7 linked regions of the Homo sapiens genome follow. The protein of the gene in region 2 purifies or fractionates together with the protein of the main gene of each other region. This does not show direct contact. Each region holds a gene or a part of one and is shown on either strand. Other genes may lie near its edges.

What was found.
Region 1: the proteins of TCF20 (region 2) and MTA3 purify together in Homo sapiens (affinity purification with mass spectrometry, with the first as the bait; one large-scale study listed by BioGRID). This does not show direct contact.
Region 3: the proteins of TCF20 (region 2) and NUDT12 purify together in Homo sapiens (affinity purification with mass spectrometry, with the first as the bait; one large-scale study listed by BioGRID). This does not show direct contact.
Region 4: the proteins of TCF20 (region 2) and IFT172 purify together in Homo sapiens (affinity purification with mass spectrometry, with the first as the bait; one large-scale study listed by BioGRID). This does not show direct contact.
Region 5: the proteins of TCF20 (region 2) and HSD17B4 purify together in Homo sapiens (affinity purification with mass spectrometry, with the first as the bait; one large-scale study listed by BioGRID). This does not show direct contact.
Region 6: the proteins of TCF20 (region 2) and PHF14 purify together in Homo sapiens (affinity purification with mass spectrometry; one large-scale study listed by BioGRID and IntAct). This does not show direct contact.
Region 7: the proteins of TCF20 (region 2) and TRAF3IP1 purify together in Homo sapiens (affinity purification with mass spectrometry, with the first as the bait; one large-scale study listed by BioGRID). This does not show direct contact.

The regions. Positions count from the first base shown.
Region 1 is NC_000002.12:42,718,632-42,722,131, reverse strand, and holds part of MTA3 (metastasis-associated protein MTA3), read right to left. Parts: intron 3,145-3,500; coding exon 3,058-3,144; intron 1-3,057. UniProt on the Homo sapiens protein: Acts as a component of the histone deacetylase NuRD complex which participates in the remodeling of chromatin.
Region 2 is NC_000022.11:42,208,154-42,211,653, forward strand, and holds part of TCF20 (transcription factor 20), read right to left. Parts: coding exon 1,498-3,500; intron 1-1,497. UniProt on the Homo sapiens protein: Transcriptional activator that binds to the regulatory region of MMP3 and thereby controls stromelysin expression. It stimulates the activity of various transcriptional activators such as JUN, SP1, PAX6 and ETS1, suggesting a function as a coactivator.
Region 3 is NC_000005.10:103,556,290-103,559,789, reverse strand, and holds part of NUDT12 (NAD-capped RNA hydrolase NUDT12), read left to right. Parts: intron 1-321; coding exon 322-911; intron 912-3,500. UniProt on the Homo sapiens protein: mRNA decapping enzyme that specifically removes the nicotinamide adenine dinucleotide (NAD) cap from a subset of mRNAs by hydrolyzing the diphosphate linkage to produce nicotinamide mononucleotide (NMN) and 5' monophosphate mRNA.
Region 4 is NC_000002.12:27,455,244-27,458,743, forward strand, and holds part of IFT172 (intraflagellar transport protein 172 homolog), read right to left. Parts: intron 2,981-3,500; coding exon 2,883-2,980; intron 2,734-2,882; coding exon 2,598-2,733; intron 2,513-2,597; coding exon 2,396-2,512; intron 1,411-2,395; coding exon 1,268-1,410; intron 1-1,267. UniProt on the Homo sapiens protein: Required for the maintenance and formation of cilia. Plays an indirect role in hedgehog (Hh) signaling, cilia being required for all activity of the hedgehog pathway.
Region 5 is NC_000005.10:119,500,997-119,504,496, forward strand, and holds part of HSD17B4 (peroxisomal multifunctional enzyme type 2), read left to right. Parts: intron 1-1,044; coding exon 1,045-1,096; intron 1,097-3,500. UniProt on the Homo sapiens protein: Bifunctional enzyme acting on the peroxisomal fatty acid beta-oxidation pathway.
Region 6 is NC_000007.14:11,165,872-11,170,118, forward strand, and holds the end of PHF14 (PHD finger protein 14), read left to right. Parts: intron 1-3,544; coding exon 3,545-3,619; 3' UTR 3,620-3,747; downstream 3,748-4,247. UniProt on the Homo sapiens protein: Histone-binding protein. Binds preferentially to unmodified histone H3 but can also bind to a lesser extent to histone H3 trimethylated at 'Lys-9' (H3K9me3) as well as to histone H3 monomethylated at 'Lys-27' (H3K27ac) and trimethylated at 'Lys-27' (H3K27me3).
Region 7 is NC_000002.12:238,323,518-238,327,017, reverse strand, and holds part of TRAF3IP1 (TRAF3-interacting protein 1), read right to left. Parts: intron 1,713-3,500; coding exon 1,644-1,712; intron 1,210-1,643; coding exon 1,048-1,209; intron 1-1,047.

The sequences.
Region 1 (3,500 bases), on a different chromosome or scaffold from region 2:
AAGCTTAGCAGCTCACTGATTCTCAGAGTCATCATGCAGCTGGCCAACTACACACAAGCCACCCTGCCTTCTCACCCTTTCACTGAAGGTAAGGGCTGAGATATCACCCTTATTTACTGGAATTTAGGAAAAGCCATTGGAATTGTTAGAATTACTACAGCTCTGGTCAAAGTCCCACACTTGCCAAAATTTAGAAATGGCTTAAATACTACCACCGAAAAAAGTGATTTTTTTTTCTCCAACATGACATGACAAGTTTGCCAGCCTTGCATTTCATTTAACCTCCACAGTCTATGCTCCATCTAGACCAAACAAGCTGCTTTCAAGTCCTTGGACTCACTGAAGCCTTTGTTCATCTGGTTGTCTTGGCCTTATGAGGGAAGAGAATACGCTTTTCCTATTTTTCTACCTATTCGAATCCTAAATATCTTTTAAGGCTGAAATTAACTATTACTTTCTTCAGGTAGGCTGCCCTAACGCTCATTAGAAAAAATTCCCTCATTGGCCAGGTGCAGTGGCTCACATCCGTAATCCCAGTACTTTGGGAGGCCAAGGTGGGCAGACTGCATGAGTCCAGGAGTTCGAGACCAGCCTGAGCAACATGGTGAAACCCTGTCTCTACAAAAATTTTTAAAAATTAGCCAAGTGTGGTGGTGCACACCTGTAGTCCCAGCCATTCAGGAGGCTTAAGTGGGAGGATCACCTGAGCCTGGGAAGTGGAGGTTGCAGTGAGCCAAGATGGAGACATTGTATTCCAGCCTGGGTGACAGAGTGAGACTCTATCTCAAAAAAAAAAAAAAAGAAAAAGAAAAAGAAAAAGAACAGTCCTTCCTCCAAGTGCCCAACGCATATTACCTGTAATTATTTTACAGGATCTAATCCTTTGTTTTATTGTTCTTACCTGCTTGCTTTCCCCACTACACTAAGAATTTTGAGGGCAAGGTCTTACCCATCTTGGTGTTCCCCAAATCACTTAGTACAGTGTTTTCAACATATAAATACTCATAAATATATTGTGTAGGGATGTGGTTCAGCTGGTAAGAACAGCACAGTCTGGGCCTATCTGGTAGATATAGAGACCAATTTGCCCACAGTAGGAGCACACAATTATTCTTGGAAAGGCTAATAATGTTATATTCTTTTTTTCTTTTCTTTTCTTTTTTTTTTTTTTTTTTTTTTTGAGACAGGGTCTCAATTGGTCACTTGGACTGGAGTGTGGTGGCACAATCTTGGCTCACTGCAACCTCTGCCTCCTGGGCTCAAGCGGTCAATCCTCCCACCTCAGTCTCCTGAGTAGTTGGGACCACAGGCACGCACCACCACACCTGCCTAATATTTGTATTTTTGGTAGAGACAGGGTTTTGCTATGTTACCCAGGCTCAAACTCCTGGACTCAAGCAATCCGCCTGCCTCTCAAAGTACTGGGATTACAGGCATGAGCCACCATGCCCGGCCTATTCTATTTTTTGTGATCAGAAACTTTCCCATGCAAGGTGGGAAGGGGCATCTGGAGACAGTTCTGCAAGGGAATACAGACCGCACTCTTCAAGGACATTACCACCATTACGTAGGTCATGTGTACAATAACCATGTGACATTTTCAGGGGATATCAAAACAACTCTTTAACCCCTGAGAAATAAAGCAAGAAATGGCCGGACGCAGTGGCTCATGCCTGTAATCCCAGCACTCTGGGAGGCCGAGGTGGGCGGATCATGAGGTCAGGAGATTGAGACCCTCCTGGCTAACAAGGTGAAACCCCGTCTCTACTAAAAATACAAAAATTAGCTGGACGTGGTGGCGGATGCCTGTAGTCCCACCTACTCAGGAGGCTGAGGCAGGAGAATGGCGTGAACCTGGGAGGCGGAGCTTGCAGTGAGCCGAGATTGCGCCACTGCACTCCAGCTTGGACAGAAGAGTGAGATTCCGTCTCAAAAAAAATAAATAAATAAAATAAATAAATAAATAAATAAATAAAGCAAGGAATAAGGTAGTACAGTAACATCAAAGAAGAAGCTTTGAGCCTCTGAATCCTGGAACATTCTTTTGGGTAAGGACTAGATAATATACCAAATTCAAGACTACACTTTGATTTTTAAAAGAGTTGATGTCTGCAGTCTGAACATTTCATAATTATAAATCTTTCTGTCAAAGCAACTCTGAGTACATATTTCACTTTACTGAAAAAGAACTATGAGAAGCACAAAAACATGCCATTCTTGCTTCTAGGTATGTGAAAAACCATTATTTTGTAAGTTATTTCTCTTAAAACTTTGTTTAAACAAAGAGATTATTGCATAGTAATTTTGTATACTATTCTTAATTGTGATATTTCAACATAAAAATGGAGCTATCATCTTTGGAGATTTCCAAGTCAGATGGCATGATAAAAATAAGAAAGCAATACAAATGCCTCCCCTTCAAAGTCACCTAAAGCACACCAAAACTATAAATATTTAAGGCTTGAAGCAGTGGCTCACATCTGTAATCCCAGCACTTTGGGAAGTCAAGGCAGGAAGATCGCTTGAGGCCAGGAGTTTGAGACCAGCCTGGGCAACAAAGCGAGACCCTGTCTCTACAAAAAACAAATAAAATAAAAAATTAAAACCTATAATTATTTTAAGATAAGTTATAAACCAGTTTGATCTCATTTTAATAAGTAAATAAATCTTCTATTTAAAAAGAGGTGAGGTGAGTTAGAAACAGGGAAGGGATCTGAAGAAGAATATTAAGACTATTCATCCTAAGTACTAACTGAATGCTTTTCATTTTCTTTTTTGCTTAATCTGTATTTATTTCCATGAATATATATTACATTTTTATTCGATGGCTTTTTGGAAAAAGTAGACATATATCATAAATCTGTGTGTGTATGTGTGTGTGTTGTGTGTGCTGGTAATAAAAGTTTCTGAAACAAAATAAACTGACTATATAAAGGTATCCAATTTCGGCTATTTGAAGGGCCTGAATTAGTTTAGGTATGTCCATTTAGAATTGCCAAATATCTATACTATTCAGAAATTGCTCTTTGAGTTTTTCCTCTATTAGAAAATACCCACCTAAATACCCAATGATACATGCCAAAGGCTTCCTAGTGCTTTTGCTTTTCAGTGGACTTCCAGATAGTTCAGCATGTCTGTCTGCATCTGAGGAGAGAAAGAAACATGGAGATAACCAATGAAATGGATTTCTCTAGCCAGACTACATGCACCACAGAAATAAAGGTACAAGTGGAAAACAGTACAAAATAGCCACCAGATTCCCGCATAATTTCCTTTTGGGTTTGAGAAAATGGTTTCTAGTTCTGGTTCCCAATTTCTAAATGGGATTTACATAAAATAACATGTAATTATTAGTAGTAGTATTATTTTGAGACGGAGGCTCACTCTGTCACCCAGGCTGAAGTACAATAGCGTGCTCTCAGCTCACTGCAACCTCCACCTCCTGGGTTCAAGCAATTCTCCTGCCTCAGCCTCCTGAGTATCTGGGATTACAGGTGCAC
Region 2 (3,500 bases):
GGTAAGGGCATGAAACTGAAACAAAAACAAAAACAAAAAATACGTTATAATGTATTCAAAAAGCAAGAGAAACGATTATAGCCATCAACTAGGCTCTGATTATTCTTTAAAAGTCAGTACATTCAGAGAAAAAAAAAGCTCTTCAAAATATCAAGAAAAAAAATAAGTAAATAAAAGGCTAGAAGGCTGGGCACTGTGGCTTGTGGCACATGCCTATAATCCTGGTACTTTAGAAGACCGAAGTGGAAGGATTGCTTGAGTCCAGCAGTTTGAGACCACTCTGGGCAACACAGTGAGACCTTGTTTCTGCAAAAAATATAAATATTAGCTGGGCATGGTGGCACACACCTTTAGTCCCAGGTACCAGGGAGCCCCAGAGTTCGAGAATGCAGTAAGCTGTGATCGCACCACTGCATTCCAGCCTGAGTGACAACAAAACAAAACAAAACAAAACAAAACCAAAACAAAACCCACATACAAAAAAGATTAGATGATAAAGCTGAAGAAAGCATAGAGAAATCAGAACAAAAAGATAATGAGATAAAACATAAAACAGAGGAGAAAAGATAAAAACAGCGGATCAATCCAGGAGGTAAAATGCCTTATATTAACAGGAATTATAAAGAGAGCAGAGAAAATAGAGGGAAGGAAATTTTCAAAGAACTACCACATGACAAATTGCCTGAACTGAAAGACATCAGCGTACATAAGATCTCATAGAGTAGCCAACACAACCATGAAATGACCTAGTCAAGACCTATCATTTTGACATCTCAAGACCCTAGGGAAAAGGAGAAGATCCTCAAACTTTCCAGAAGAAAAACAGAACATGCATCAAGGGATGAAAAATTAGAATGGCAGTCTTCTCAACTGCAGCACTGGAAGCTAGTGGACAAACCAGGAAGAACGACTGCAAGACAGTGAGAGAAAAATCACTTCCAATCTAGAATTCCACACCTAGCCAACTCTCAATTAAGCATGAGGCTAGGATAAAGTCATGCTCAGATATATAGGATCTCAACATTTTTACACTCCCACACACCCTTTCTCACAAAACTACTAAAGGATGATGCACGCCCTTAAATGAAGGCTCACTTTAAGAATGAGGAAGAAATGGGATTCAGGAAACAGAACATTCAATAGAGGAGAGAAAGAAATGAAGATGATGATGTTGATGATCTGCCCCAGGATAAGTTATGAAACAGATCCAAAGAATAAATATCCTAACTGGAAAGTGTGCGTTAGAAAAGATGTGGCCCAAGAAACTTGAAATATAATAATATGCTTCATAAGCATTATACATTTCAAAAAATGAAAAACGATTTTAGAAGTCTATACAAATCTTCCAAATTACCTATTTCATTTTCTGTCCATCACATGGGCATAGGCACTTTAATTTGGAGGAATAATCATGTGACATGTAAGAACAAAAACATGCAAGAAAAGGAACCAAATGAAATAAAAATCCCAAGCTGGTAAGAGATTTCTCATACTCACCATCTCTCTGGCTATTTCCAGCGCTTCCTGCAGGCCATAGAGCCTGCCACAAACCAGGTAGATTCCATTGGCCCAGAGAATACAACCCTCATGGACCCAAAATTCATTGCTGTCAAGAGGTAGTTCAGGGATTTGTAACTCCAGCTCAGGGCCACCTTCTGAAGTGGTGGGCACGGAGGGCTTCGAGTCCAAAACAGTCTTTTCACTGCTGCCCTCAGTGGCTGCTTTTTTACAAGGGAGCCCCCTGGACAGGGACCGAGGGCCTCCACCACAGTCTTCCGAGCGGTGGCGCCGCTTAAACCTGGGGTGTGCGGCCAGGCTTCTCTGCTCCTTCTGCTGCTGCTGCTGCTCTTCCTCCTCCTCAGTGTCCGTCTTGGAGCCATTAGAAGCACTTTTGTGCCGTACCTTAACTTTGCTCTGCATTTCTGTGGCCCTCTTAGGAGGTGGATTCTTCGGGAGAGTGGCTGCATAATCTTGGGGATAAAAAGGTCCAAAGAGGTCACCCATGTTCCGGTAACTGGCCCACTTGCCACACAGACAGCAAACCAGGTGCCCCATAACCGAAGACTCTGTCACAACAGGTCCCTGCAGCATAAAGGACGAGGCCGGGAGCGCCTTGCTTTCAGTGCTGCTAGGTGGAGGGGTCAGTGACCTCTGACCCTTCCTGCCCCTCACTAATTTGGTCTGTTCTTCTTCCTCAGCATTGATGATTGTACAAACGGCTCCAAGTTCACACTTATTTACTACATGGATGTAAGGGTAAAAAGACTTGTTCTTGGCATCAGTTTTATCCAGTGGCTGGGTGGCATATTTTAGTTTGATCTCAGGTTCTTGGGGTTCCACAATGGGAACTGCTTGTTTGGTTTTTCGCTTCCTCGGCTGGGCCCCAGGCTTCCTTCTCTCCCTCCTTTGCCTCTGTTTTTTTGGCTTTGGCTCTCCATCTGCAGAACCTTCTGGTATCTGTGGGGGCTGAGGGGGTGGAGGCGGTGGCTGCTGCTGTTTCTTTTGCTTATTCACACTACCAATGGGTCTCCCCTTCTTCTTTCCTGATGGGAAATATCCCTTTGGAGGGAAACCCTCTTGCTTCGGTGAAATCGTCACTGTATCGTTCTCCTTCTCTTCAGCCTTGGGGTTTGCCTCAGGGGCCAATATGCCCACTGGAGGTACATTCTTTGAGTCTGGAAAGATTAAAGGTGCTGTTCCACCCAGGGAACCATCTGGTCTCCCTTGGTTACTACCAGGCTTCTGTGAGGTTGTGGATGTCATGGCACCAGGGGGTTCCTTTCCGGCAGTAACTGTTTCTGCATGTGTCTCTGTCTTCACTTTGTCATCCACGCTGCCACGCCACTCTTCTGAAGACCTTGGAAGAGGTTTCTCTACGTGCAACTCCTGGTTTGCTGGACTGACTAGGTCCGAAGCCACCTCACCTTTTCTCTTCTCTATGTCAGCATCCTGAACAGCAACACTCCCACCTTCAGGAGGACCACTCTTCAAAGACAGTATATCATCAAGCGTAACCGTGTCTCCCCCAGCCTCCGCACTGTTCGAAGATGCGCTCCTCCTAATATTTGGGGATGTAATCTTCTGAACTATAGCTTCCAATTTCAATCCCCGTCCTTTCCGTGGGGGCAGTATTTTGGTCTTAGCAGGGCTTGTGAGGGTAACAGCAGGGCAGTTTCTACTATCTGGACTTGGAAGGTCCTTGGAGGAATCTCTCTTAGGGATAGACTTGATATCCTGACTGTGAGAAAGATGGGCATAGGAATTGAATGCTTTATCAGCGCCTTCTTTTGATGAGTGAAGGAGGCGACCTTTATCTTCAGTGCTACTGTTCTTTACATCTTGTGACTGTCTCTTACTGGGAATGGGAGAGATAAAAGAACGAACACGCCTCCTCATGATTAAGGGGTTTTGAGAAGAATGATCCTCCTGGCCTGGAAGTCTCAGCATAACACTACCAGGTTTGGATGACTGTGTAGCCTCAGCTAGTCCATGTCCATCAG
Region 3 (3,500 bases), on a different chromosome or scaffold from region 2:
ATGCAGATCTCACTATGACTACCAAGGACTTCTTGTAGAATTTTGGTATCTCTTTATAGTGCATAAAGCTTAATACTGTTTTATTTTGTGAGTAATTATCCAGAAAGTGTAAGTATCCACTGTCTCTTAACTTTTTGTCATTTATGATTGTTCTTTTAACCTTCCCAATAGTAAACTATGTAACAAAAGAAAAAAAATCTATGTAATCATTAAAAAGAAGGACTTTAATATGTATCTGGAAATATTTTAGTGAAATAAATACGGAGAAAGTGTTTACTTCCTATTTTACTTTTTCTCCCCAATTTTTTCTTCCATCTATAGGTGTGACAGATCAATTGTCAATAAATCAAGGCAGACTGCACTGGACATTGCTGTATTTTGGGGTTATAAGCATATAGCTAATTTACTAGCTACTGCTAAAGGTGGGAAGAAGCCTTGGTTCCTAACGAATGAAGTGGAAGAATGTGAAAATTATTTTAGCAAAACACTACTGGACCGGAAAAGTGAAAAGAGAAATAATTCTGACTGGCTGCTAGCTAAAGAAAGCCATCCAGCCACAGTTTTTATTCTTTTCTCAGATTTAAATCCCTTGGTTACTCTAGGTGGCAATAAAGAAAGTTTCCAACAGCCAGAAGTTAGGCTTTGTCAGCTGAACTACACAGATATAAAGGATTATTTGGCCCAGCCTGAGAAGATCACCTTGATTTTTCTTGGAGTAGAACTTGAAATAAAAGACAAACTACTTAATTATGCTGGTGAAGTCCCGAGAGAGGAGGAAGATGGATTGGTTGCCTGGTTTGCTCTAGGTATAGATCCTATTGCTGCTGAAGAATTCAAGCAAAGACATGAAAATTGTTACTTTCTTCATCCTCCTATGCCAGCCCTTCTGCAATTGAAAGAAAAAGAAGCTGGTAAGAAATGAATGCTGCTTTTCATTGGTAAAATCTGGTTTTTAGACTTGAGTTGGAGTTGTATGTATTTGCACTTTCCAGGGGCACTCTTTTTCCAGTAAGCAGTGAAATTAGACTGTCTTCATCAGAAACTTCTTAAAGTTCTCACCCTAGGGGACTACTCTCCTGGGCAGTTAGTAGTTCTAATCAGCCCAGACTGATTTCCTGAGAATTAACCCTGGTGCATGATGATCTCATTTGATTCTTCATTGAATAATTCTTAGTTCCTGCTACACGTAGAACATGATGGCAAAGACTTTGACTGTTTTGTTTTGTATTCTGTTGATGGGGCTTTTTATGGCATGGTAAGAAATTGGGGTTTGATTCTAAAGCCATTTAAATGTAACCTAACCTGTGTTTAAAATATTTTTTTAAAAAAGACACTGCACACTGGCTGCATCATAGAGCATAAATTGTACACATGTAAGTAAGTAAGTGTGAAAGTTGGGAGTCTTGTTAAGAGGGAATTGAGTATTACAGGTGCCCAAGTAAGAGATTGCAATGGCTTGAGTTAGAATGGAGGCAGTGGAGATGGAGACAAAGGGAGAATCTGAGGTATTCTCGAGGTAGAAGGGATAGGGCTTGATCTGTAGGTTGAGACCCTTATAAGTGAGAGATGGTGGTAATATGGCATGAATTAAGGTACTGATAGTAGAAATGGAGGAAAGAGGGTATATGCAAGATAAAGTTTGGAGAGAAAATCACTGGTCTTTGCTATTGAATTGGATATGGGATATATAATAATGAAGGAAAAGATTAAGAATGACTGCTAGGCTAGAGACTTTAATAATTTGGTATATAGTGATACCATTTCTCAATAATATAGGATGATGGTTAGAGCAAGGAAAGCAGGACAGACTTGGATTAAAAAAATCAAGAGTTTACTTTTGGGCATACTAAGTTTTAGAAATGGACATTACAATCAGATGTCTGAACTGGAAATACCCATATGGCAGTCATCAACACACAGATACTTAAATCCCAAAAAACTACTGAGATTACTTGGAGAGTTGAGAGGAAGCAAGAAAAACTCAGAATAAGACCTGAATCCCCCTAAATTTAAAGGTAAGCTGCAAGCAGGAGAGCCATCAAAGGAGTTGGAAACAGTGTGGCCATGAGGTAGGAAGAGAGCAAGAGGCCTCAGGGAAACCAAGACAGCAGAGTATTTCCAGGAGGGAGTGGTCAAATGTATTGAATGCTGTTATGAACTTGAGTAAGATGAAGGCAAAGTGGTTTTTTTGTTTTGTTTTGTTTTTTAAAGCATCTTTGTCTTTGGTAATATGAAGCTATTGATGAACTTGACAAGAGAAACGTCAGTGGAGTGAAACGAACAGAAACCAGATTATGGTAGACTGATGAGTTACTGGGAAGTTAGGAATAGGTCACTTGTCAGTGACCACCTTCCCTTAGGTGATAGAGGTCCTTCCAGAGACTGCTTAAATATCTCCTCCTCAAAGTCTGGTGTGGTATGTTTTATTCTCCACACCTGTGGAGAAATCATCAAACTTTTTTAAGAAAATTTATTTTCTTTAGACATATATATATATATATATATATATCATTTTAAGATCAAAAAGATCTGATAAATGAGCTAGTTGCTTGCTTTTTTCCCTTGTAGGAAAACTGAGGCCTTTTAACTCACTTGCTCTATAAGTTTACACAGTTACTTAACTTTTCTGTGACTCAGTTTACTCCTAAAGAAAATGATAATAATAGTATCTATCTTCTTTAGGGTTGCTCTAAACATTAAATAATCTATATAAAATTCCTTGCATGGTGCTTGGCACATTGTAAGTACTCAATAAATGTTAGCTTTTCTTATTGTGATGATTCTGAAATAATGTAAATACCCTAGTGTAAGTTACATATTACAAGGTTACGTAGCAGGCAAAAACGTAATGTTGTCTATTCATTACAACTGTTTTATTTATTTTTCCCAGTTTAAACGATGTTAGAATTTTTGTTATTATTTTGTTCATTTCAAAAATCTGTAGACCAAATAATCTATTTTAGGGAGGGTAACTTTGTCAAGCATTTAACATATAGCATTTCTAGTCTTATTGCCTCAACTGTAATATTTCTGGCCAGGCCATATTAACTTTTTTTGAACTACCAGAGTAAAACCTATAGCTAAAGTGTATATATTTTAAGATTTATCCTATTAGGCATTTTTTGGTAAACAAAGTTAACCATGAATGTAGTAAATGCAGTGTGTTTTATACTGTGTACATGCAGTCTCCAGTTGAAAACAGGTTGTGTTCCACATGGCTTGGACCATCAATGGCATAGTCACCAAGAGAGTGGTGATAGCCTCCTACAGTTTCCTAGTAATATTTCCTTTAGAGTACAAATCTCACTTAAGAACTGACTTTGTGGTATATTTTTATTAAAATCACTATTGTAAAATCACTGTTTGTAAACTTACTCTACACTAGAATCATGAATACCCCAAATTTTAAAATCACCTACAGTAAAAGCCTGATCTAATATAGGATGTAAGATAGATGTCAGTATGTCTATCTTATATGAAAGTTATATTTTATTCAAACA
Region 4 (3,500 bases), on a different chromosome or scaffold from region 2:
GCTCCAAAGTCATCGTCTGGTTTCTAATTGTGATGCTGAAGTATGGTAAATTGGCGATTTTGAAATAATTGATGATCACAGCTAGGAAAATTGCTGTGAACCTCACAGGCAGGCTAAACAAGTGTAGAGTGATCAGCCCCAGATTTGATGTGCAAATCAGAGATCTAGAAAAATGGCAGAATATGCCGGGCGCGGTGGCTCACGCCTGTAATCCCAGCACTTTGGGAGGCCAAGGCAGGTGGATCACAAGGTCAGAAGATTGAGACCAGCCTGGCTAACAGGGTGAAACCCTGTCTCTACTAAAAAAGTACAAAAAAATTAGCCGGGCGTGGTGGCGGGCACCTGTAGTCCCAGCTACTCAGGAGGCTGAGGCAGGAGAATGGCTTGAACCTGGGAGGCGGAGCTTGCAGTGAGCCAAGGTTGCACCACTGCACTCCAGCCTGGGCAACAGAGCGAGACTCTGTCTCAGAAAAAAAACAAAAAAGAAAAATGGCAGAATAATCTGCTCCCATCCTGCCAGTTTGGTTTTATTGTACTGACAACCTCAGTTGGCATCATGGACCATGAAGAAGCAAGACAGCAACATATAGGAGGGAAAATCCTGGGATTCTTTTTCTAGAGATGTAATACATATTTACAAATAAAATGCTTCACGGACTCTGGTGCTTCCAAAAAAAAAGAAAAGTTCGGCCAGGCGCAGTGGCTCACGCCTGTAATCTCAGCACTTTGGGAGGCCAAGGTGGGCAGATCACGAGGTCAAGAGATCAAGACCATCCTGGCCAACATGGTGAAACCCCATCCCTACTAAAAATACAAAAATTAGATGGGCGTGGTGGTGCATGCCTGTAGTCCCAGCTACTCGGGAGGCTGAGGCAGGAGAATCATTTGAACCAGGAGGTGGAGGTTGCAGTGAGCTGATATCGTGCCACTGCACTCCAGCCTGGCGACGGAGTGAGACTCTGTCTCAAAAAAAAAAACAGTTCACTCTGCATTTGACAGAATCACACTTCCATTACCCAGGAGTAAGTTATTGGTTTAGTGCAGTCTGCAGTCCTAGCTTTACAATCTGTTTCCTCTCCACCCTTCTTAGAACAGCCAAAGGTTAAACACTGTTCTGAGCCCCTAGGGAATAGAAGCAGTTAATTTATTCATGCCACTCTATCATGTCCTTCCAAGGATCTTTCTTTCAGTTATACATCAATTTTCTTTCTCTAGATAGTGGCTCTGGCTGGGATGGGGCCCGTGGAGAGAAAGCTTGGGGCCTCACCAATTGTCTGCAGCGTGGTCAACAGCAGCTTCCAGGAGTCCCAGCTTATTAAGCAGTCTAACTGCAGCCTCTCCTCCCAGGCTCTTTGCCCACAGATAGGCCACGTGTTTGTGGGCATTAGCCCCTCCTTGAGTTCTGGCCACCTGTAAAGCAAAGTCACTCAATAATCCTGCAATACAGAGCTTCTCCCTTCTCATCTCTGACCTCGGCTTTGACAAGGATCCAGTAACTGTTCTAAATTGAACAGGAAGAGGCTGGGTGTGGTGGCTCATACCTATAATCCCAGCATTTTGGGAGGCCGAGGCAAGAGGATAACTTGAGGTCAGGAGTTCGAGACCAGCCTGGCCAACATAGTGAAACCCCATCTCTACTAAAAATACAAAAATTAGCTGGGCACGGTGGTGAGTGCCTGTAATCCCAGCTACTCGGGAGGCTGAGGCAGAAAAATTGCTTGAACCCGGGAGGTGGAGGTTGCAGTGAGCCAAGACTGTGCCACTGCACTTCAGCCTGGGTGACAGAGCGAAACTCCATCTCAAAAAATAAAATAAAATAAAAAGTTAACAGGAAGAGGGCTAAATTTCAGGGTTTCTTAACTTAGGTTAAAGTACTTAGGGTCCAAGGATAGGCTTCACCTGGTCCACAGACCCTTAAAATTATAAGTGAAATTTTCTGTATACAGATGTGGACATGGTTCTGGCAAGAGAGACTCTGATCTTCACTACATTTTCAAAGATGCTCTGACCAATTGTGAATTAGTCACTTAAAGTGGGAAAGAAGGGCTGGGCAAGGTGGCTCATAGCTGTAATCCCAACACTTTGGGAGGCCAAGGCAGGTGGATCGCTTGAGCCCAGGAGTTCAAGACCAGCTTGGGCAACATGGTGAAAACTTGTCTCTACAAAAAAATTAAAAAATTAGCCAGCTGTGGTGGTGCACACCTATAGTCCCAGCTACTCAGGAGGTTGAGGTGGGAGGATCGAGTGCTTAAGCCCAGGAGGTCAAGGCTGCAGTGAGCCATAATTGCACCACTGCACTCCAGCCTGGGTGACAGAGTGAGACCCTTTCTGAAAAAAAGGAAAAACGTGGGAAAGAAGGATGGATGTATCCCTCAGTGTGGCCTGAACTCCTTACCCTGTAGGCCTCTTCCCAAAGCCCACTGGCCCGGTACATGTTCACTGTTGCCTTCCATTCCTGGGCCTCGAGGTAGTGGTACTCAGCCTCCTGTAGTCGGCCTTCAGCCTCCAGCTCCTGCAGGAAGGTGAGTCAGGATGGAGAGATGGGGAGATGGAGCCTGGTTGGGGAAGAGATAGGGAGAGCCAGGAGAAGGGCTCACCTTGCCCAGATGTAGGTGTGTATCACTGAGGAGATCTGGATGGTGCTTCCCTACCAGGCGGATCATGTCATCATACAACTTGTGCTTTTTGTACATGGTGATGGCAAGATCAGGCTCTTGTACTGTCACATATAGCCTGGGGAAGGAGATACATCTGGGGCCTCCTAGACCCGACCCCTGCTATCACTGCCTTCTGGGCAGAGGGTACACATCCTCAGACCCCATCCCTCGTCCCAGCCTTGAAATCTCATCTCCCTCTACACCTCCTCTGGGGCCACGGCTCACCTTTCAGCCTCACGGTACTTGCCCTGCTTCTCCATTTCCTGGGCCTGAGTGATGTATAGCACTGACACATCTTCTGGTCTCATGCATTTCATCGCCAGCTGTGGAGGCACAGAGGCAAGGCAGCCTCAGATCCAATTCCCCAGGGAAGCAGGGCTTCAAGGAAACCTGCTTGTTCAGAAACTCTGAACTCTCCCAACAATCACAGGAGTTTGGGTATTGCCACTCTACTAGTGAGGTTGGGGAATTCCAAGTCCATAAGAAGCAGAGGAAGAACTATATTCTGCTAAGGTGGGAAGGTCTGCGATGCCTTGGCTGGGGCATACACTCCCATTACCACGGTAACCACTGGACTCTGAAGTGTAGGCGCAAGAACAAAGTCATCAATGTGACCAGAGGCATTAGGAGTGGTAGTTCAGATTCCCCAGCTCCCAAGCCCATCTGCTCCTTCAGAATGATAGATAGGTCTGGAAACAAGGGCCTCTCTTCATCCCTTCCTTTCCCTATGGCTAGGGATCAAAGTGGCTCAGACTGTTTTTTGGTACTCTTTGTCAGCTTTCAGGGAGCCAAGCGAAGAGGAGAAACAGGTATCAAGGAATGAGGCCACAATGCCACTAAGGC
Region 5 (3,500 bases), on a different chromosome or scaffold from region 2:
CTGCTCTGAGTTGATGGCCACTTATTTTATTAGAGTGTTTCATGAAGTTGGGAGGAAGACAAGAAATATGTGCTGGGCAGTTTGCTGTTTCATTCACACTCCCATGGTTAGTTACTATATACTCTGAACAATGTAAATGCAAAAAATTAAAACAAATGTTTCAAAATTCCCCCTAACAATTGGAAATCGTAAATGGTGTTCATGCATCTTGGAACTTGAATCCTAGTCTTCTTAACCTTGACTTTTTCAAGCCGTATGACACAGTAAAGCTGACCTTCATTTGTCTTCTCATCAACCACCTCCCCTTCTTCTTCTTCCTTTTTTTTTTTTTTTAAAATCCTTTTGGGTTCTGAGGAAGACTGGTAAACTGGCCCTCTGCAGTGAAAGTGGGATCATTTGAGTGTATGCTTCAAGTTTTGGTTTTCCTGTCCTGTTGTTTTCCTATATACCTTGGTGCATTCTTTGTTTGATACATTGAGGTTAAGTGGCTATTAAGTTACACAGTGTCCTTAGTATCTACTCTTTGTAGATAATTTACAAAGTATTATAAGAAAGGGATATTCACATTGACAGTGCTTTCATTTTGAACATGGTTGTAAGGTTTTTCTTTGTGTTTTAGTTGTGTCGTTTGTATTTGGTATATGTGACCTGAAATTACTAGCACTGGCGCATTTGTTCATTCTTATTCAATGAATATTTATTGGATGCCCAATATGTTCCAGGCACTGTTATAAGTTCTGGGAATACAGCCTAGTTTATTGTCTCTTGGCAAATAATATGTAATTAACAGTCAACAAGGCTTTATGAACGCCAAGAAAGAACACAAATATATCTTCTCTGCTCCAGAAGAGCTGACTGTCTTGAGATTGGGGGATTGATTATTTTTCAATCACATGATTAAGAAGAAGCCAAACAGAGATAGATAACTTGGAGAGAAATGTGAGCCTGTGGATGGTAAAATGTCACTTGCGAGTAACAGTATCCATAGGCAGAACCTGTGGAGCAAGAAAGTTTGCTAATAAAATTTTGTTTACCCTAACATAGGTTCTTCATGGAGAGCAGTACTTAGAGTTATATAAACCACTTCCCAGAGCAGGTGAGTTATTGATATACTAATTCCATAATACCATACTTTTATTTCCAGATTAACCTTTTAAACAACATCAGTGTGTTAAACTGGTATAGAGTGACCTAATGAAACATATCACAAATTGTTATGCACATGTGAGCCATTAGAGTAGACTGATGTTAACTAGTATCTGTTTTGGTCACCTTAAGCTTTGTCCTTTAATAGTCTTAAAAATTTATTTCATAATTTATCTCTGTTGATGTATGTGTTATTAACAACTGAAAGGAACGTTCGTGTATGTGCTCTAGACTTAGTGATTGCATATAATCTGTTATGGTTCTTATGATTATTGTTCTTTTCTCAGGTATTTATCTTTATACTGATTTTCATAAAGCAAACAATGTTAAAAGATACAGAATTTCTTGTAATTCATTTTTTTCTTTTTTTTTGGAGAAAATAAAAACAAGTCTTTAATAATCATTTTTACTTTTCTCAAAAATATCTTACTTGTTTAGTAAATCTCTTTTAATTTTTTTCACTATAATTGGATATATTTATTTCTCTACTTTGATGTTTGAATGTTGTCTAATTATATACTGGTCATATAAGGTGGTAGAATACAAAAAGGAATGTTTTGTTAATATTTGTCATTTCATGTTATACAATGTAGAGGTCGGCAAGTAGCTAGAATCCTACTTGAATATTTTTCTTAAACCTTTTTATTTTTCTAAAAAATGTATGAGATTTTTATTGCTTGAAGCTGAATAGCTTTATTTCAGTGTAAGTATTATAGCATAAGGTTTCAAAACAGCTCTTTTTATGTGAAACAGTACACTTTGTGGTGATTGTGCATTGATCAAATATCTGCTGGATACCCAGTATTTGCAAGGCACAGTATTAGGTAGTAGGTAATTTTCTAACCTGTCTGTATATCAAAATCACCCGAGTTATTACATTATATTATCTGTTAATTTAAGTAAAATGTAGATTCTCAATCCCAACCTTGGAAATTGTGTGTGTGTGTGTGTGTGTGTGTGTGTGTGTGTGTGTATGTGTGCATGTATGTATGTGGTGGGGTGGTGGTGTTGGTGACAGTGGCTAGGAAGCTCCTTACATGTTTCATATGTACCCAGCCCTATGGGTCCACTTGGAAACCATTGTTATAAGGGAAGTAGAAATGTGCAAGATAGGTTTCTGCCGTTAGGGATTTTAAAATACGAAAAGAGAGATTAGATGTATACTCCAGAGTGATGATAACTGAACAGTGATGTGAATAGGAAGGTGTAGAGAATAACTTTTTCATTTTTTTTTACCTCCTTAGCCTCAAGTTATATTTCTCATGAATTATTTTTTCTCAGCCTGTGCATTTTCTTTAAGCAGTTTTAAAATTTACTGTGTAGTAAATGTGAATGTTCAAAATATGAGATATTTGTGGTTTGGAACCTTTTAAACTGCAGAAAACCAAGGTCACGACTACTGTTTATAATCTACTACTGTTTATAAAACACACCAATTGATGAGACACAGAGTGTCAAGCATCAGGAGACTGATAACAACATCTCTTAATGGCTCATTTGTTGGCTATAGTGGTAGTGTCATAGGCTGACTTACCCTAATCATGTTAAAAATAACCACTAGAAGGAGTGAAGGAACGCAGCAGTACTTTCTTTTCTGTCTGTTTTTTTTTTTTGGTTTTATATAAACTTTATTATTTTAAAAAAGAATTTTAACTTTTATTTTAGATTCAGGAGGTACCTGTGCAGATTTATTACGTGGGTGTATTGTGTGATGCTAAACTTTGGGATATGAATGATCCCATCACTCAGGTAGTGAGCATAGTACCCAATAGGTAGTTTTTCAGTTCTTGCTCTCCCTACTCTAGTAGTCCCCATTGTCTGTTGTTCCCATCTTTATGTCCACGTGTACCCAGAGTTCAGCTCCCACTTGTAAGTGAAAACACACAGTATTTGGTTTTTTGTTCCTGCATTAATTCACTTAGGATAATGACGTCCAACTGTATCCATGTTGCTGCGGAGCACATGATTTTGTTCTTTTTCATGGCTGCGTAGTATTCCATGGTATATATGTACCACATTTTCTTTATCCATTTCACCATTGATGGGCACCTAGATTGATTCCATGTCTTTGCTATTGTGAATAGTGCTGCAGTGAGCATATGAGTGCATATGTCTTTTTGGTGGAATGATTTCTTTTCCTTTGGGTATATATCCAGTAATGAGATTGCTGGGTCAAATGGTAGTTCTGTTTTAAGTTCTTTGAGAAATCTCCAGACTGCTTTTCATGGTAGCTGTACTAATTTACATTCCCTCCAACAGTGTATAAATGTTCTGTTTTATCTGCAGCCTCACCAGCATCTGTTATTTTTTTGACTTTTTAGTAATAGCCATTCTGACTGATGTGACATGGTATC
Region 6 (4,247 bases), on a different chromosome or scaffold from region 2:
TTACTTAATTTCTCTGTTAGAATAACTCAGTCTCATATTGCCACCTGGAGTATCAGCCCATTATTAAATGGTCCATCTGTGCCTAGAAATTACCATTCTCACTACAATTCTGTCCGTGTAAAAAGAGCAAGGCTAAGGAACCAAATTTTGTCATTTGATATTACAGGTGTTACTGTTAATTGAGTGCACATTCTTGAAATTTCACATATAACTAGCAGATCTGCAAAGTTGTTATAGTCAGTGTATTTTTTTAGAGTATGAATTAACAAGTTTAAACATTAAGAGGTAAGCCTGTCTACTTTCCAGTAGCCTCAAAGGATACATTTTCTTTACGATTGTTTCAGAACACTTCATGAAACAAATGTCAAACTTGTCAGGGCTGTCACTAAGAAAATGATCCATGTAGCCAGGGTCTTCTTTCATTGGGAAACAAACAGATGTCTTATCTCAGCAGAGAGAAAAAAAAAAACCCTCCTGTATATCAGAAGAAATTTTTGCTTACCTATAATATCCAGTAGTAAAGAAATGCTTTGGTAAAAAGCTTCCTTTGCAATTTTATTTATTATGCAGTCATTTATCAATTATATTTTATTTGCTGTCTGAGTTACTTTAATGATTTTTATTAATCTGGAACTGCGTATAAATTCTTACAAAAATTGACCTGCAATGTGAAAAACATAAATTAGCATTTCCAAAAAGACTTCCCTAGAGCTTTATTAGATCAAATTTTAATGTTATTTATGATAAAATCTATTACTGTTATTTTGATAATGTTATAGCAATTTTAATATTATACTCTAGCAATTAGAGTGGAATGCCTTTTTCACCCCTTCATAATGCTTTTCTGCACCTAGGTTACAGCTATCCTTCTAAAAGGAAGAAAGAGATTGGCTCTTATTTGTTATATAAGTGACTTAACAGCATAAAAGGCAAGATGTTTTAAGACAAATCCTCAGCACAAAGAAAGGTGTGAAACAGTTATGTACCTGTCCTGAACAGCAGGCAGTGTTAGAAGGCATGCATTTATAAACTGTACTTTATTTCTAAGAAAAATTCAACAACAAAAAGACAAACATTATATTAAGAATGTTACTTAACTGGCATATCTATATATATCTTATCCATATATTTAAAACATATTCAAATTAATGGAAGTTGCAAATTTTTATTTCATTTAACCATGTTCCAATAGCTTATATCCATAGTTAAATATGAAAATAAAGTATATAAGTACCTCCTAGTCCTTGGGGTTATTAAGTCTTTACATTTGTGTTTTGACTTAGAGCAGCAAGGTTGCTAGAGAAAACTAGATAGCCAAGCATGTTAAACCGGGAAGTCATACGGTGGAGAAACTTAGTAGACTGTCCGTGTGATAAAGGCTCCATCTTTCTTTTATAAATTAAAGGGTATGAGCTTGATAATGGCTGTTTTGGCTCATGTTGCTTCAAACATTTTTGCTTATTTTTATTTTCACTGTTGTTATATAGTAAGTTAAGATTGCTAGAAGTGTGAGTACTAGCAATCTTAATTTACGATAGTTAAGAACAATATTGTGCTTTTCCAAATTATGTATTAATTCAGGCATACCTTTTATTCGTTCATTATTCCACTGTTTCACATAGTTCAGAAAATATTGATTGGACTACAACTATATACTAAGTATGTCCTGTTAGATGGTAGGAATGTATAAGATACAGAAGATAAAACCTTCCTTTGAGGAACAGATGGACAAATTCAGTGCTACATATCAAAAATTTCTTGCCATCCGTACCTGCTGATTTAACACTTTCTAACAGTGTCTCTCCTGAAGAAGACAGGGGAAAGTGTAGAGTAAGATTTACTTTTTATTATAATGTAGTTAAAATGTAATCTCTAGGCTGGGCGCAGTGGCTCACGCCTGTAATCCCGGCACTTTGGGAGGCTGAGGCGGGGCAGATCACGAGGTCAGGAGATCGAGACCATCCTGGCTAACACGGTGAAACCCCGTCTCTACTAAAAATACAAAAAATTAGCCGGGCGTGGTGGTGGGTGCCTGTCCCAGCTACTCGGGAGGCTGAGGCAGGAGAATGGCGTGAACCTGGGAGGCGGAGCTTGCAGTGAGCAGAGATCGCGCCACTGCACTCCAGCCTGGGCGAAAGAGTCCGTCTCAAAAAAAAAAAAAAAGAAATGTCATCTGTAGGAACTTTTTTCTAAAAGTGGAAAACACATGTTCATTAATAAATTTTCAAGAATCAAACTTAATGTATCTATTCACTGGAGATAAAATAAGGAAAAAATGAAATGACAAACAGTGGCTATCATACTTGGAAAAATATATCAAAGTTACATTGCCAAAATGATATTCAAAACCCCATTCCTGGTGTTCTACATATCTATAATGATTCAGATTGGTTGATAATATTGATAATTTCTCTACTTTCCCAGTGTTAACAAAGTCTAAATCACAGATTCCGTTGAGTTTAGAGAAACAAAGTATATAAAAAAGCTTTTTTCACCCGCCTTAATCATTACTGGCAAGTATGTAGTTTGTCATAGAAAACAAATATGCATACCTTGGTTTGCTTTTACTTTATAAAGTCAATTCACAAAGTAGAGTTCAACAATTATTTAATTCAATGATTTAATTTGGTTTCATCAGATACAGAGATAGAGTGGTATGTTTGATGATATTGATGATTATTACTGTTGTCTAGAAATACTTAAATTGATGTTTATGCTTTAATTAACTCAGAAGAGTACCTTTATGTCAGTTAATAAAAATAAATAATCTTAAATGATAAATCAGAAATATTAGGAAAGCAAGACTGTTTTGTACTTGGGTGTGTTGAAAGAACATGTATGATGAGATGGGTTACAAATTGTAAGATGAAATATTTTTCCAGACTCTCATTGCTTATACTTTGAAGGTTACCATTTAATACTGAACACAAGATGCACTTCATTTCTATGAAAGCAGACATTATGATGTCATTTCATCTATTCACCATGTTCCACAGGAACCTGCTATGAATTATGAGGCCACCACTTAGAATTGAAACTGTAGAAGATTGTAAGCATTCTAAGCCGACATGCACATGCTTCCTATTTTAGACCTCACTGATCTTCAGATAACATATGGTGGTACAAGTAATTGGAAAATTGGCACACCTGTCAAGAAAGTATACTAGATGGGGCAAAAAAATGCCATGCTGGAGCACATGAAGTGTCTTAGCAATTAAATTTATTGTTTTTTGTCAAGCAGTGAAGTAAAAATATCTAGCTCATCCCCTGCAAAGAACACTTTTCAGTGGCAGGTGTTTCCAAAGTAATTTTTAGGGCATTGTTAAAATTGGTTGCTTTTAAAAACATACAGAAAATTTTAATGTGTTCTATAAAACAGCACCTATTGCAAATATTTAAATGTTACATAATTTTACCATTTGTGTTTAGGATTATTAGAATCACAGTAGTTCATAGTTCTACAGATGCAGTTAAAATCTGTCAAGTATAGCTGATAAATGCTCTAAAGTTTATATTTTAATGTTTTCTAAAATTTATTTCACAGGAAGATGAAAATGAAGCTGAAAGAAAAAATATATCTCAGGAGCTCAACATGGAACAGAAAAATCCAAAGAAATAAAAGATTTTCTGTAGTGTTTTTGAAAAGTTTGCAGCTTATGTAATAGCAGATAAAATTTCTAATTGTAAAATGTTAAATTGTAAAATCTAATTTGCAAAATGTTCTCAATAAAGTCATTCAAAATGAAATAGGAGCTTGTATTTGGAATTCGTATATTTTAGAGTAATTTCGACTTTTTTATTCAAAAGCTGGACCTTTAAAAGTTTTTAAAAGGAGAAAAATTCTTAACTCAAATTTGAGAACAGAGACAGAATGTTATTTTTTTTGTAACCTAACTGTTAACACATTTAAATGACCTAAAAAAAAAACCTCTGAAAGTCTTTTTTCTTCTTACTAGACTCTGTGTTCTTCTTTAAGGGCCTTAACATAATTTTGATTATCAATATAAAGAAAAACCAACATAGTTCAAAAATGAACAGGGAATGCTTGCACATGAAAATGGTTAAAACCAGTCAATGCCACAAGGAGAAATACTGTTTCCTGATTTCATCTATTTATATATTACACGATACTCTAGGACTGCAGGGAAAGACTAAAAAGAAATGATAATTTGACGGTCTCTGGCAGAAGTAATGCCATGATTTATAATTTATAAAACATTTACTAAGGACCTGCTGTGTGCAAGGTC
Region 7 (3,500 bases), on a different chromosome or scaffold from region 2:
GGAAGCCGGAGATGATTCAGCAGAGGAGACAGGAGCCAGATGTGCTTTTTAGAAAGATGAGAAACATAAAGGACCCGGGAAGGGGAGCTGGGGAGCCTAGGGACAGAGGCCAGTGTACTGGCAAGATCTGCTTCCAAGTCTCTAAGTTTGCATGCTGGACCTGCACTGGGGGGGCCTCCTAGGAGTCGGCCTGATACCACTATGCACCTCCACTACCCACTGCTGTTGAGGGGGCTGAAACCTACCTGTTCCCATTTGGGTCACATTTAAGGTTAGCCCCCAGCCAACCACCCACTAGGTATGTGAAAAACTGTATTAATTACACTCTCAATACAAGTCCAACCTGCTCCTCCACAGGGCACTACTCGGCCCTCAAAAGAAGGAAGACCCTGGGGAAAGACCTTCTCCAACATTTGGGCAAACATGGCCCAGGCTGGACCTAACTAGAGAAGCCTGAGGCCTTGACACCCAAGTTTCTAGCCCACAGTGAAAAGCTCAAGAAAGAAAAAATCTACTCCCCGTACAACTGAAACAGCAACCGAGAGAGAGAGAAAAGGTGGAAGAGAGAGAGGAAGGGCAACAGGCAAGCAGACACCAGAGGCTGGAGATGGAGGAAGAGAACAGAGACTCCCATAAGACCCAGGGAAGAAGAAAAGCAGCTCCTGCAGCCACTGCAGCCCTGGCTGGAAGCAGCCACCTGTCCTCAAGGGAGCCTCAGAAAGGAGAAAGCCAGAGGGCATGGAAGCCTGGGCCTGCAGCCTCCAGCCTCCAGCCAGGCACAGTGTGCCTGCAGGGTTCCCGACTTTCTACTGAAAGCTTGCAGAACTTGCGTATTACATACCCTTATTTGTTTTATCATTCAGTATTAAATTACTCCTTCTGTATCTCTGGGGCTCCAGAAGGGGTGGGATCAGATTCAAAGCACAGTGTTTGACAGACACCACTGAAACTCCTTCCCTAAACCGCCCGCACATGTGAGTCCCTCACCCCCGACTACTTTTTACTCAAGTACTAAGTAAGTTCAAAATGCCAGGACAGCAGTAGTACCTTGTTGAGACAGCATTTTCCAATTATCTGGAGCAGCTCGTTTGTTCTTTCAGGCTCATGCCCCGCCACGATTCGGGCTGGTTTGGCCAACAGTGGCTCTCCCGACACCATTACAACCACGTCTATGGCCTTTTGTAGGAAGCTAATTTTTGCATCTTTATCCTGAAACATTTCCATTGAAAATACAAATATTACAATACTTTGAAGAGTGTGCATTATCTTCTGTATGTTTACCAGGCATAGGATAGTTTCTGTTTACATACAAAGCTGTTTTTAGATATATAACAAATCTAGAAATACTGACCTTTTACTGACAAAACAAAAACAATTCATTAAAGCCTTTAATTTAGTTGATGGGCTAGCATTAACCTTTGAAATACTAATCCCATTTTTCAGTGAATAAAACTAGCATGACATCCAGTTGCCACAATGAGAAAATGAAATGAGAAAGGGTATATATATCAATTTACGAATTCACTGACCTTGTATTCCAACCACATGCAGCAGAGAAATGACACAAGCCACACTACCAGGCCTACAAAAAATCCCATCCGTTAAGGCGAGGAGTCAATAGGAGAAGCCCGACTCAAACCCACCTTCACATTATCAGACTTCATCTCGGCGTCTGTGTAGAGGCCCTTCATGAAACCAGTCATTCTAATCACCTTCAAGAGAGAAAGAAAGGCCACCATGTCACCTCACAGACAGCCTCCTCATCAGCCTCATCCACTCAACTCCACACTTGGGAGATGTCAGAATTGACTAGCAGCCCAGATTTGAATCATCCACTTAAGAAATATTTGATGTCTACTACACGTGCTGTGCAGGGCAGAAGCCAGCCAGATCCTCTCAGAACTTAGTCTGGCTGTGTGGACAGACAGGTAAAGATGACACCATGCAGGTACTAAGGAAGCACTCAGGCTTGGTACCTAATCCACAATCCGGGAGGGAGCAGGAGTGGCAGGGAACCCTTCCTGGAGGAATCATACCTAGATGGGGACCAGGCTTACAGAAGAGTTGGGCAAGGGGACATTTCGGATGCACATGCCAAACATAAGAAAGTCCACACGGCTGGGTGTGGTGGCTCACACCTGTAATCCCAGCACTTTGGGAGGCTGAGGCGGACAAATCACAAGGTCAGAAGATCGAGACCATCCTGGCCAACATGGTGAAACCCTGTCTCCACTAAAAATACAAAAATTAGCTGGGTGTGGTGGTGCTCGCCTATAGTCCCAACTACTGGGGAGGCTGAGGCAGGAGAATCACTTGAAGCAGGAAACAGAGATTGCAGTGAGCCGAGATCGTACCACTGCACTCCAGCCTGGCGACAGAGCCAGACTCCGTCTCAAAAAAAAGAAAAAAAGAAAATGAAAGTCCACACAAGGTCCAGGACCCACAGAGTCCCCTGCAAGGGATCAAAAGAAATGTAGGACAGCAGGAGCCTGAGGCCAGAGAGACACTCGGGGCCTGGTGCAGAGGCCCTGTGAAGCCACTCAGGGACATGAACTGAGCTGAAGGACCACGAGGAGGACCTGGAACGGCATTTTACAAGAGTCCTTCAGGTGCAATGGAGGGAACAGATTCCAAAAAGAAAAGGAACTTTGGCTGGGCACAGTGGCTTACACCTGTAATCCCAGCACTTTGGGAGGCCGAGGTGGGTGGATCACTTGAGGTCAGCAGTTCAAGACCAGCCTGGCCAACAAGGTGAAACCCCGTCTCTACTAAAAATACAAAAATTAGCCAGGCATGGTGGTGGGCGTCTGTAATCCCAGCTACTCAGGAGGCTGAGGCAACAGAATTGTTTGAACCCGGGAGGTGGAGGTTGGAGTGAGTCAGAATCATGCCACAGGACTCCAGCCTGGGCAACGCAGTGAGACTCTGCCTCAAAAAAAAAGAAAGAAAAGAAAAGGAATTTCTCAACCTAGTTTGCTAAGACTAGAAGTTCTGCAAGGGTCTTTCTCCTCACCACGTGTCACTACTCACTTCTTAAGATGGTGGCAGGCTCCACACCTCACTGCTTTGGTTCTCTCCCTAATCATCCCTTCCCTCAGGTAACCTGTACCTCCTAATTAGCCCTAAAACCAGCTTTTAGGGCAATTATTTTTCCTGTTCCTCTCAACCACCACACCCAGCCAGGGTCCTGGGTTGTCTCAGACTGCAGTTTTTTGAAATGTGGTAGGTTACTGTAAAATCAATACAATTTGTAGCAACAAGCATTTTGAATAGCTGGGACCCTTACCAGCAGGCTGCATGGTATGTGGTAAGGACAGGTATGCTCATAGCCACATATCCTAGGTCAGCTAATAAAGCATATTTATTACGGGAAGACATGTTTTAAAAACAAGACAGTCCCACCCTAATGAGAGCCTCCTCTGGAATCAAGCCACAACTCCTTAATTTGCATCAAGTTAGGTATTAATGAATCTAGGAGTTTTCATTCCACACCACACTAT